Homo sapiens: one gene and its partners. The protein of the gene in region 2 purifies or fractionates together with the protein of the main gene of each other region. This does not show direct contact. Each region holds a gene or a part of one and is shown on either strand. Other genes may lie near its edges.

Evidence for each region. The genes of interacting proteins can lie anywhere in the genome.
Region 1: the proteins of MFSD11 (region 2) and GNAO1 purify together in Homo sapiens (affinity purification with mass spectrometry; one large-scale study listed by BioGRID and IntAct). This does not show direct contact.
Region 3: the proteins of MFSD11 (region 2) and PLD2 purify together in Homo sapiens (affinity purification with mass spectrometry; one large-scale study listed by BioGRID and IntAct). This does not show direct contact.
Region 4: the proteins of MFSD11 (region 2) and AGPAT2 purify together in Homo sapiens (affinity purification with mass spectrometry; one large-scale study listed by BioGRID and IntAct). This does not show direct contact.

The regions. Positions count from the first base shown.
Region 1 is NC_000016.10:56,330,989-56,334,488, reverse strand, and holds part of GNAO1 (guanine nucleotide-binding protein G(o) subunit alpha), read right to left. Parts: intron 1-3,500. UniProt on the Homo sapiens protein: Guanine nucleotide-binding proteins (G proteins) function as transducers downstream of G protein-coupled receptors (GPCRs) in numerous signaling cascades.
Region 2 is NC_000017.11:76,769,119-76,772,618, reverse strand, and holds part of MFSD11 (UNC93-like protein MFSD11), read right to left. Parts: intron 2,874-3,500; coding exon 2,748-2,873; intron 1-2,747.
Region 3 is NC_000017.11:4,810,152-4,813,651, reverse strand, and holds part of PLD2 (phospholipase D2), read right to left. Parts: intron 2,851-3,500; coding exon 2,701-2,850; intron 1-2,700.
Region 4 is NC_000009.12:136,675,051-136,677,457, forward strand, and holds part of AGPAT2 (1-acyl-sn-glycerol-3-phosphate acyltransferase beta), read right to left. Parts: coding exon 2,373-2,407; intron 2,087-2,372; coding exon 1,911-2,086; intron 1,631-1,910; coding exon 1,535-1,630; intron 1-1,534. UniProt on the Homo sapiens protein: Converts 1-acyl-sn-glycerol-3-phosphate (lysophosphatidic acid or LPA) into 1,2-diacyl-sn-glycerol-3-phosphate (phosphatidic acid or PA) by incorporating an acyl moiety at the sn-2 position of the glycerol backbone.

The sequences.
Region 1 (3,500 bases), on a different chromosome or scaffold from region 2:
CTCAGACAAGATCAAGCTTTTATATGAGACTACCATGTTTATTATAATACTGTTTTGTCATTTTTTCATTTAAAAGATAATAATGGCCAACAGATAGGTTCTATTCTTTGCATGTGTAACCATGTTTCATGTGTAATTTCCCTGAGTTAAATGTACTAAAACTGGGGCTCATCGAAGGTAAGTACCTTGCCTGAGGCTGTGACCCGGACCCTTGGCTCCAGAGGCCATAATTTTATTACTGTCTGGGGCTTCAGCGGCCCCTGAGCAGTTCCCTGCCTTCTCCACACTTCCTTCTCACTTACCAAGGGGTCTGTGTGCCCCTTCCAATTTGATGCTCTTGGAGGCTCAGGGCTGCACAGCCATACAGCGGCTGGGCCTCCCTGGGACCCGGTCTTTGGAATCAGGGCTCTTTACCCCTGCTACCTCCTGCTGTGGGGACAGACCAGGCTTTTGCAAGTCACCTGCCCAGGCCTCAGGCCAAGCACTCAGAGGACGCTGCCTGCAAGGGCTTTGGGGTTCATTGTGGGTTAAGTTTGAACCTAAAGCCAGGGTAGGATCTGGGAAATCAGGAAGTGGGGAGCTGGGCCAGGCCTGAAGGAAGACTCAGTGATCCATGGAGCCTGCCAGGCCACCCATCCCTGCTGCCGGGGCAAACCACAAGCAGCCCACAGGGAGGAGCCCCAAGTGTCTGAACCACAGAACGATGTGGGGTCCCAGGCTGCATCTGCTCCAGGACCTGCTGGGGGCCAGCTTGCTGGCTGGACCTGCAGTTACCACTGCATGAGAGATGGGCATGCTGACCAGCTCATGGATGTCCACAGGGCTGGAAAGGGCAGATGACTTCGCCAGCTAGGGTGTTCACTGATAGAACCCAGTGACAATCCTTGTGAGAATGCCCCTAAGAAAAGAAAACAGAAGGGTGGCTTCCAAGGCTCAGGGAGGTAAGCTTGAAGTCACACTGCGAGAAAATGAACTTGGCAGCCGGGTGCGGTGGCTCACGCCTGTAATCCCAGCACTTTGGGAGGCCAAGGTGGGCGGATCATGAGGTCAGGATTTTGAGACCATCCTGGCCAACATGGTGAAACCCCATCTCTACTAAAAATGCAAAAATTAGCTGGGCCTGGTGGCAGGTGCCTATAATCCCAGCACTCAGGAGGCTGAGGCAGGAGAATCGCTTCAACCCAGGAGGCGGAGGTTGCAGTGAGTTGAGATCGTGCCACTGTACTCCAGCCTGGGTGACAGAGCAAGACTCTGTCTCGGGGAGAAAAAAAAAAAAAAGAAAAAAAGAAAATGCACTTGGCTGGGATTCCAGCCCAGTTCTGACTGGCTCCAGACCCCACGCTCTTAAACTGGACATCATCAGCATTTTAAAAATCCAGAAAAAAAATTTAAACAGGACTCCTGGCCTCCTCTCCTGAGCCTGACTGCCCTCCGTGGACAGGAACGGTGTGGGGATGGGGTGAGAGAGCCGAGGCTGCAGAGCAGACCTGTACACGCCCCCGGCCTCACAGCCTCCTCGCCAGCCAGTGGCATCTGGGCAGGCTCTGGTCTCAGCCAGAAGGAGCCTCTCCCAAGCCTCTGTGCCTGCCCCGCCCTGGCGCCCATGACCTCTGCTTCCAAGCTGTGAGGACGCCCTCTGCTGTCATCTGCAGCTGGACACCAGCCTGGAAGCGTTTGGTCCTGCTCTTCCTTTCCCAGCCAGGGCAAACCTCCTTTAGATGGGCAACCTGGCCCTCTGGCCTCTCTGTGCTGGCCGAGCCTCATGCAAGGAGACGGCTGTGGAGGGTGGGCAAGGTGTGGGAGAACTGCTTAACAACCCAGTCGGGAAGGCTGACTGTGCACCTGCTGTCCATCCCACCTAGCCACTGTTCCAGGAGCTGGGGATGGGGCAGTCGACACAGCCCCACCTTCCCAGGGCCTGTGTTCCAAGTGAGTGTGCACACGTGTGTGAGGTGGTAAACAGAAGAGTCAGAGAGATGATATGTCAGGAGGTAGTGTGAGAGAACGAATCAGGCTATTAGTGATGGGGGAGAGCTGCTGGGGGCTGCTATTTGATGCAGGGTGGTTGGGGAAGGCGTCTGGATAGGGGAGACTGAGGGGAATGAGGGAGCAAGTGGGCCTCGAGTGGCCCAGTGGAAACACTGGCAGGCATGGCGGCAGGAAGCACACGTGGAGGGGCCAGGTGGTGGGTGAGGCTGGGGAAGGTGGTGGAGGTGAGGGTGGCCAGAGTCCGGCTGGGGCAAGCAGGCCCTTGAGGTCATTGTCAGGGCTTGAGCTTTTGCTCTGAGTGAGATGGGAGCCCCTCGAGGGTTCTGGCCAGAAGCATGTTGACAACGGCCCTGTTGCTGCCATGAGAGCAGGTCAGCGGGTGGGGCCTGCAGAGCTGCTGTCGTCACCAGATGGCACTGGCACAGTGGGGGTGGCTGTGGAGGGTGTGAGTGGTCAGAATCTGATGTACCTGCCAGGGGAGCTGCATCTGCTGGTGGCCTCGGTGTGGGATACAGGAGGACGAGCAGAAGTAGAGATACCTCCACGTGGTGGAATGAGACACATTTAGAGGGAGGGAGGAGCACACAGAGCAGCTTCTAGTGGGAGGATGGGAGCCAGGGGTTCCACGGGCTCATGTTAACTTGAGACTCATTTGATGTCCAAACAGGCACTGAGTAGGCAGAAGTCAGGAGGGAGGGCTGGGCTGGCGATATGAATTTGAGAGTTGTCCAAGTGTACAAGGTGTTTAAAACGAGACAGGAGAAGGTCACCAGGCACCAGGCCTTGAGAGGAGGTGCTTCTGGGATGGAGCTTGGGGACGGGATACAGCAGCCCCCAGCAGACCTCCCCCATCACCAGTTGCCTGGGTGGGTGGGCAGGAGGCATCGAGGGAGTCTGGAAAGGGCGGCCCGAGAGGAGGCGGGGGCTGGGAGTGAAAGGAGGTACCAGGTACTAGGGGACTGAACCCTGAACCCTGAGTGGGAGGAGGCTGATGGAGCAGCCCCCAGGATAGGACTGGGCTATGAGCCATCTCAGCAGGCGGAGGAGCAAGAGCTCGATAGGAGTGGGGTCAAGAGAGAAGGTGAGGAGAGGAAACGTCGGACGCCAGCATGGACAACTCAGTGGGGAACTGGATTTGAGGAAAGCCAATGCCAACCAGGCCCCAGAGCACCTTTCACAGCCCCTGGTTGGATGTGCCCAGGGTTTCTGGGACCTGCCTCTAGGTAGTTATCCAGAAGGGAGAGCCAGCCCTGTTCACAGAGGCCGGGGTGCACCAAGAGCCTGCTCAGGAGCCTGTGCCCTGGTCCCTCCCCTGTAAAGGGCTGGGCAGAGAAGTGCTTTGGTGGTTGGGGCATTAGGGTGTCAATGGCACCCCCTGGAAGCACGTGCTGTGGCAGCCCTGTGAGTCCTCCCTCTCCTTTCCAGCACAACAAACCTACTCTGATCTGCTTTCTATACTGGGCCCAAGACTTTGTCAGAAGCTGAGGTCTAACTGCTAAGACAGGAAATGT
Region 2 (3,500 bases):
TTGAATCCCAGCAGCGAAGGTTGCAGTGAGCCAAGATCGAGCCACTGCACCCCAGCCTGGGCAACAGAGCAAGACTCTGTCCTTAAAAAAAAAAAAAAAAAAAAGTTACTAAGGTAGAGCGTTAACAATAGATGAATCCTGTTAAAGGATATTCAGATGTTCATTGTACTATTTTTATTTTTGCAATTTCTTTTTTTGTTTTGGTTTTTTGGTTTTTTTGAGACAGAATCTTGCTCTGTGGCCCAGGCTGGAGTGCAGTGGTGTGATCTGGATTCACTGCAACCTCCCACTTCAGCCTCCCAAGTAGCTGGGACGACAGGCATACGCCACTACACCTGGCTAATTTTTTTGTACTTTTTTTGTAGAGATGGGGTTTTGCCATGTTGCCCAGGCTGGTCTCAAACTCCTGAACTCAAGCGATCTGCCCACCTCAGCTCCCCAAAGTGCTAGAATTATAGGCGTGAGCACTGTGCCTGGCCTATTTTCGCAATTTCTTATCAATTTGAAATTATTTTTTTCAAAAAAGCAGGTTGCCTACAGAAAGTGAGTTTCTTCCCAGGTAGTCTACAGGCAGACACTAAACAAGCACTTACCAGAGAAGACAACCCTGCACTGACTCACCATGGCTAAGCTTCGCCCGCCATTTACATACCCATAACTCCCAACATCAACCTCCAGCCCACGAGTCCCTCCTGAGCATCAGCCTGCATTTCCCACTGGACACTTCTCTACTTGGGTGCCTCTCTGGTACTTAGAGGTGTTCAAAATCCCATTCAGCAGATTTCCTCAAACCCCATCTCCTACAGCATTCTCTCTGCCCAGGTTACTCTGATCAACCTGGTCATCATTCTAGACATCTCTCCTCACACCACCACGCAACTGGTTACTAAGTTCTGCTGAAACCATGTTCTCATTATTCATTCAACACATTTAACTCATTTATTGGATGCCCAATATAGACCTTGTCCTGCTCCAGGTGTTGGCAATAAGGCAGGGGCCAAAAAGCAAAAACAAACAAACCCTCCAAAGTCCGCTTTACCCATGGTGCTTACCACTGCCTGACATACAAAGATTTCTGTTTTTATTGTCTGTATTCTTCCTCAAGAATATAAGCTCTATATGGGCAGGTATTTTTGTCTATTTTGTTGACATGACAGATTACAATAAACCTTTGTTGAAGTTCCTCATATCTAACACAATATTCAATATACTGCAAGTGCTGAACAAATCTTTGTTGAACAAAGAATAACTCGTGGAGCATAATAAAAATACATATTTGGTCTTTGCTGCTAGTTCTTGGCACAGAAATCCTAAAAGGCCTGGAATTTCCTCAGTGATACGAGGGACATTAGTTATTCAGAAAGAGCCACTTTCAACCATACTGAAGTTTACGCTAAGGGGGCAACCCTTGGGGAGAGAGGGGTTGGCCTAGGATAGAGCTTCAGGATGAGGCTGGTTCCCAGAAAGACCAAGCCCTGAGGGCTAGAACTTCCAGGCCCCTTTCACTCCCACTTCAGGGAGGGAAGGCTGGAGATTAAATCAATCACCAATGGCCAATGATTGTTTTTTTGTTGTTGTTAGAGACAGGGTCTCCTTATGTTGTCCAGGCTGATCTCGAACTCCTGGGCTCAAGTGATCCTCCCACCTCGGCCTCCCAAAGTGAATGAGCCACTGCACCCGGCCATGTGGCCAATGATTTAATCAAGCATGCCTATGTAACAGGATCTCCATAAATCCCCCTAAACAGGGTTGGAGGAGCTTCTGGAGTGGTGAGCCCAAAATCCATGGAGACAGAGGCTCCTGCACTTAGGGACCCTTTCAGACCCCACCCTTTGCACCTCCTCATCAGGCTGCTCATCTGTATCCTTTATAATAAACTCTAATAGTCAGGAGAGCATTTTCCTGAGTTCTGTGAGTTGCTCTAGCAAATTATCAAACATGAAGGGGGAAGAGGGCTATGGGAACCTCCAAATTTGTACCCAAGTCAGAGAGGTGTGCCTGAGAGGCCTATGGACCCAGACTGTCTGTCTGTAGGACTGAACCCTTAAACCTGTGGAATCTGACACTAACTTTGGAGAGTTAAGTGTTAGAACAGGATTGAGCTGTTGGACACCCAGTTGGTGACAGGGAATCAGAGAACCAGAGTCAGGAATTCCAAGACTTTCTAAATATTTTAGGAGGAAAAGTCGGGAGACATTGTATGTTTTCTTACACAGGGTTTCCATCTGTGAATTATTTTGCAAATGTTTTATAATTTAGTTATATTAGAATAGCAATAATAGGCCGGGCATGGTGGCTCACACCTGTAATCCCAGCACTTTGGGAGGCCGAGGTGGGCGGATCATGAGGTCAGGAGATCGAGACCATCCTGGCTAATGCGGTGAAACCCCGTCTCTACTAAAAATACAAAAAAATTAGCCGGGCATAGTGGCGGGCGCCTGTAGTCCCAGCTACTCGGGAGGCTGAGGCAGAAGAATGGCGTGAACCCGGGAGGCGGAGCTTGCAGTGAGCTGAGATCGCACCACTGCACTCCAACTCTAGCCTCGGCGACAGAGCGAGACTCTGTCTGGAAAAAAAAAAAAAAAAAGAAAAAGAATAGCAATAATAGAAAAATAAAAACACACGTTTGGGTAAAAATAAGTAGAAAAAACAGAAATTCAAGGACAAAGGTGAAGCACACTTAAAATTTCTATTTTACCTATAATAAACTGATATTTTTAATGCAAACGCTTTTTTTTAAAACCAACCTAAAATTTCTCCAATGCCGATGAAAATGCCAGAAAGTCCAATAAGGCTTTTCTCTTCTGCTCCAAATTTATTTGTAGCACCAATACAGGTTCCATATACACCAGAGAAGAAAGTTAATTCCAGACCTTTAGTTAAAGAAAAAAAACAGATGTCATTTATATATTCACATTTTTGTTTATCTTCCCATCTAGTAGTATCTGACGAAAGAATACTTGCGTAGTAAAACACATAAAACTCACAGAGACTGAAATATTAATCCCCAAGCAGAGCATAATGTGATGTAACTGATGAAATGGAATTAGCTTCATGCTATGGACTAAATGTTTGTGTCCTCCCCAGATTCACATATTGAAACTCAAATTCCCCAAAACATGATGGTATTTGGAGATGGGGCCTTTTGGAGGCAATTAGGCCATGAGGGTGGAGCCCTCTCGATGTGATTAGTGCCCTTATAAATAGAGACAACAAAAAGCTTGCTTCCTGTCTGCTCTCTGCCATGGGAGGACACAGCAAGAAGGCAGCTGTCTACAACCAGGAACAGCCCACACCACAAGCTGCGCATGGTGGCATCCTGCTCTCAGACTTCCCAGCCTCCAGAACTGTGAGAAATAAGTGTCTGTTGTTTAAGCCACACAGTCTATGGAAATTTGTTATAGCAGCTAAAATTAAGATACCACAAGACGGCATCTGCCATATATTTCAGGTAAAAGTATACAACTCAAATGAACAGATATCCTTATGTTAAAACCTAT
Region 3 (3,500 bases), about 72 Mb from region 2:
CCTGACCCCAATGATCTACCCGCCTCGGCCTCCCAAAGTGCTGGGATTACAGGCATGAGCCAAAGCGACTGGTCAGCAGTATCAAAATATTAAATGCATATACCCTTTAATATCATTAAATATACATGGTAATTACATGTCTAGGAATACATCTAATACAATGCCTAGGCAAATGTTGTGTTCATCACATTGTTTGTAAGAGTGAAAAATGGGAAATAATATAAGTGTCTAATCTCTCACACAGGTATTAAGTGAAAAAATAAGTCACAGAAGAGGTTGCATGATCTCATTTATGTTGAAACAAAAGTAACACGTGCATGCACATGTGAAAATATGCAGGAAGGCTGGGCAAGGTGGCTCATGCCTGTAATCCCAGCCCTTTGGGAAGCCGAAGCGGGTGGATCACTTAAGGTCAGGAGTTCGTGACCAGCCTGGCCAACATGGTGAAATCCTATCTCTACTAAAAATACAAAAATCAGCTGAGCATAGTGGTGCACGCCTGTAATCCCAGCTACTCAGGAGGCCGAGGCAGGAGAATCGCTTGAACCCAGGGGGCAGAGACTGCAGTGAGCTGGTATCGCGCCACTGCACTCCAGCTTGGGCGACAGAGCCAGACTCCATCTCAAAAACCAAACCAAACCAAAACAAAACAAACGAACAAACAAAACTTCCTTCCATGACTGCCCTGTGTGCCTGTGATATTAGCACATGGGACCCTGTGAGATCAGGTGCCACTGACTCCCAGCTTCTCCTCTGACTGCTCCTCCTCACTCAGTAACAACAATATGTCCTGGTGGTTCCCAAACACCCTGAGCTATTTCTGTCTTCTGTGCCTGGACTGTTCTGCATTTTCTTTATCTTGTATAGTTCCATGAGGATCAGCAAGTGTATGTTCCCACGCAATCACCAGTCCTATCAAAATATAGGACATTTTTATCGTCCTGGAATGTTCCCTCGTGTGCCCCACTATAGGCAATCATTTCCCCATACCCTGCCACAGGCAACTGCTGATCTGATTTCCATCACTGTGGATTGGTTTTGGCTGTTTTAGAAGTTTATAGCCAGGTGCAGTGGCTCAAGCCTGTAATCCCAGCACTTTGGGAGGCCGAGGTGGGCAGATCACGAAGTCAGGAGATCGAGACCATCCTGGCCAACATGGTGAAACCCTGGCTCTACTAAAAATACAAAAATTAGCTGGACATGGTGGCATATGCCTGTAATCCTAGCTACTCAGGAGGCTGAGGCAGAAGAATCACTTGAACCGGGGAGTCAGAGGTTGCAGTGAGGTGGGATCCTGCCACTGCACTCCAGCCTGGTGACAGAGACAGACTCCATCTCAAAAAAAAAAAAAAAAAACCAAAACAAAAATTAGCTGGGTGTGGTGGCATGCACCTGTGATCCCAGCTACTTGGGAGGCTGAGGCAGGAGAATCCCTTGAACCTGGGAGGCTGAGGTTGCAGTGAGCTGAGATTGTGCCACTGCACGCTAGCCTGGGCAACAAGAGCGAAACTCTGCCTTAAAAAAAAAAAAGTATATAGGCCAGGCACTGTCGCTCATGCCTGCAATCCAGCACTTTGGGGAGGCCGAGGCAGGATGATCCCTTGAGCCCAGGAGTTCGAGACCACACCCGTCTAATTTTTAAAATTTTTTGTAAAAAAAAATGTTTTTAATTAGCCGGGTGTGGTGGCATGTGTCTGTAGTCTCAGCTACTTGGGAGGCTGAGGCAGGAGGATGATTTGAGCCTGGGAGGTTGAAGTTGCCGTGAGCCATGATCACACTACTGCACTACACGCCTGGTGACAGAGCAAGACACTGTCTCCAACAAAAACCAACAAAATTAATATTGTGTCAGTCTCTGATTTAAAGCAAAACTACCTGAGGGTCACCACCTCCTGGAAACCTGTCCTGATATCCCTGCTGGGCCAGGTACTTCCTGTCTGTGCGTGTCACCTTCTACCTATCACCAGTACGGCAAGTTCACATTGTTTCACGATTTGATCACCTACTTCCCTAACCCAGAGAGGACTGTGTGTTACTGCCAGCACTGCTAGGTGCTTAGAAAAATGTTTATTAAGGCTGGGCACGGTGGCTCACGCCTGTAATCCCAGCACTTCGGGAGGCCGAGGCGGGCGGATCACCCGAGGTCAGGAGTTCGAGAAGAGCCTGGCCAACATGGTGAAACCCCCGTCTCTACTAAAAATACAAAAATTAGCCAGGTGTGGTGGTGGGCGCCTGTAATCCCGGCTACTCGGGAGGCTGAGGCAGAAGAATCGCTTGAACCTGGGAGGCGGAGGTTGCAGTGAGCCGAGATCAACAGAACAAAACTCTCTCTCAAAAAAAAAAAAAAAAAAAAAGAAAAGAAAATGTTTATTAAATGAAGGACTAAATCAGAGAGATTTGAGAAGATCATGGAGAACAGAGAGGGTCAGTATTGTAGAGAGGGGTTTAAAAGGTTATAGGAGGTTAGAGAGGTCAAGGGTCAGAAGAGATGACCAAGTTTGGGGGTCAGAAAGGTCGGCGCGAAATCAGAGAGATCAATGTGGTTAAAGATGTCAAAGGTCAGGAAGATTAAAGAAGTCACGGGGCGGGTCATTGAGGTCAGGAGGGTTCAGATGAGAAAAGAGAGGATGAAGGACTCAGAGATTACACAGGGGGTCAAGAAAGCCACAGACAAGCTCAGAAGGGATGTCAGTGTCTCACCACCGGGCCAAGGTCCCAGGCCGGGGTGGGGCGTAGCTGTCATGCCGGTGCAGCTGTAGGAAGTCTCTGCCTGGGCCCTGTGCCAGCTCAGTGATCTCTTGGGCCCACCACCGTGCCTGCCGGTAGCTGCTGCACTTGAGAATCAAGGACCTGGATGGGAACGATGAGATGTCCATAAATCCTCGCCCTCCATACCTGTGATCTTGCCTAGAGACCTCCCCTTTCCCACTTCCTCCCTTAGTCCCTAATCACAACTGCACAGGGATAGGGCGTGTATGTATCTGCCTTATTTATTTATTTATTTTTGAGACAGAGTTTAGCTCTTGTCCCCCAGGCTGGAGTGCAGTGGTGCGATCTCTGCTCACTGCAACCTCTGCACCCCAGCTTCAAGCGATTCTCCTGCCTCAGCCTCCCAAATAGCTGGGATTACAGGCACGCACCACCACGCCCGGCTAATTTTTGTATTTTTAGTAGAGACAAGGTTTTAGCATGTTGGCTGGGCTGGTCTCGAACTCCTGACCTCAGGTGATCCACCCGCCTCGGCCTCCCAAAGTGCTGGGATTGTAGGTGTGAGCCACCGCGCCCGGCCATATCCACCTTACTCATAGTTGGATCCTAGTATTGCATCAGCAACCAGTATTGTACCAGGCACTCGGGTTTGTTGAATGAACAAATGAACAAATGGAATTTCGTTTATGTCAGCAGTTCCCTTCCCAGGCTTCTACTAATCCCCTTTCTCTGGGCCCAGTCTAAGAGCAGTCCCAAGCATCTGGCTAGACCAGTTCCTGGTTCAAAACTAT
Region 4 (2,407 bases), on a different chromosome or scaffold from region 2:
AGCACGTGTTTGCCTGGTTCACACCTGTCCCCATATTGGGTCTGCAGCTAGCCAGGGGGGCAGGGCCCTGTCCGGTTTAGGAGGAGATTATGGCACTCTTCCCTGCCCACGCCTCTCTCCCAGTCCTCTCCATCTCAGGAAGCCAGTGAGGGAGGCAGCCCTAGCCCGGGGGAGGGGTGGAGCCTGCTGGTGTTCCTGGAAGTCACCGGGGTCAAATCCAAGGGCACTTGGGGGTGATCATTAACCCGAGGCAGCCAGGGAACCTCCAGGGGGCCAGCAGGTAGGCTGGGGACTGGCAGCAGGAAGGGAGGGGGCCAGCAGGTAGGCTGGGGACTGGGAGCAGGGAGGGAGGGGGCCAGCAGGTAGGCTGGGGACTGGCAGCAGGAAGGGAGGAGGCCAGCAGGTAGGCTGGGGACTGGCAGCAGGGAGGGAGGAGGCCAGCAGGTAGGCTGGGGACTGGGAGCAGGGAGGGAGGGGGCCAGCAGGTAGGCTGGGGACTGGCAGCAGGGAGGGAGGGGGCCAGCAGGTAGGCTGGGGACCGGGAGCAGGGACGGAAAAGCTGTGGGTCTCCTGGCTGAAGCTGCACTGCGGCCACCCCCAGCCACCCCATCACAGCCGCCCGTCTCCCCTCTGCTCTCCCAGAGCTGATCCAGCCCTCACTCTGCCCCCAAAGGGAAGTGACATCAGCCCCAGGCTGGGCAGGTGTGCCCCGCACCTGGGCAGGGCTGGGATCAGAGCCCAAGGATGCTCACCCAGCCCAGCGCCTCCGGGGCTCCCCAGGCCTCACGGCCTTAGCTGGGAGCCTCTGGAAGGAGGGCCCCCTCCCCACCACCTTGCACAGGGCCAGGCACTGGGGGCCACTAGTGGCCAGTGTGAGGGAAGGAGCTGAGACCCCTGCCCTGAGCGAGACCCCACCCAGATGGGTAAAAGCTCCTTCTCCTGACGCAACTCTTCCCAGCACAGCGGCAGAGGCAGGACAGGTGCTGGGGGAATGGCTATACCCTGGCCTCTCCCAGACACCCTAGGATGCACTGCACCCCTGGAGGCTGGGGACCAGGAAGTCCAGAGTCTGGAGGCGCTGCTTACAATGAGCTCCACCCACCCTGAGCTCTGGTCTGGCCTGATACTACACCAAAAGCCTGGCTTGTCCAGACCCACTGCCCATGCCCTGAAGCCCACCCCAGCCAGGCACAGGCCCAGAAATGAGCCTCCTGAGAGCTCTGCAGCAGAGGCGAGCGGCCCGGCTCCCCACCCCTCTACCTGCCCAGCCTCGCAGGCCAAGCACTGGGTGCCCACCAAGGGCAGCTGGTCACTCTGGGCTCTGTGTGGGCAAAAGGCCCAAGGGGCTGCCCTCCCTGGTCGGTCAGGGGGCAAGTGCAGGAAGGGGCAAGGAGGCCCTGTCCCCAACTCAGTGGGAGGAGTCCCTTGTGTGTCAAGGGTCCTCAGCTCGGCTGGTGGTCACCTGCTGCCTTAAGCCAGCCTGACCCCGCCTCCCCAGCCTGCACCCACCCAGGGAGGGCTGGGCTCAGCCTACCTGTGCCTGGACTGCCAGGTAGAAGGCGCCCTTCTTAAAAGGCAGCAGGTCCCCATTGTCGTTGCGAGTACCCTCGGGATAGATCCACACTTTGAGCTGCAGGGAGAGGAGAGCCTGGACTGACCTCACGCCCAGGCCACCCCAGAAAGGCCACGCCGCCTCGCCTCCTAAGAAGCCCCACTTCGCAAAGCAGCTGGCATGGGACCCCATCTGCGGAGCATGGATGATGTAGGGGTCTGGCGTGGGACCCCACCTGCGGAGCATGGATGATGTGGGGGTCTTGTTTTTTCTGCCAAAACCAAGTCACAAGCTGGCCCCTGCCTGGCCCCGCCCAGGCCCCACCCCAACCCCACCGAGCCCGGCCCTGCACACTCACGTTCTCCCTGACCATGCGCTCGCCCAGGTCGGCCATCACTGTCATGGCAGTGCTAGAGCGCTGCCGGTTGATGAAGAAGACGCCCCCGAGGTACATGATGAGGCCCACGGGCCCCAGGAAGAGCAGCTCCCGCTTGGCGATCTGCACGCAGCGCTCCGGAAGGACCTCCATGAGGCCTGGGAGACAGAGAGACAGAGACAGAGAGAGAGGGGGAGACAGCGTGCGCTGGAAGACAGCTGCTGAGCACCCACAGGCCTGCCTGGCACCCTGCCTTCTCCCTGGCTACCTGGACGGGTCGTGTGGCCTCCGAGCCTCTGTGTCTGGCCCTGAGGGAGGTACTGAGGCCGAGCTCGCCCAGGCACAGGCAGCCCTGTGTCCTCGTCCCCGGGACCCAGCCCCACACAGCCCCAGCTCAGCCGGCCCCACTCAAACCCCAGAAGCCACCCCCGAGGCCCGGCCTACCCATCATGTCCAGGATGCTCTGGTGGTTGGAGACG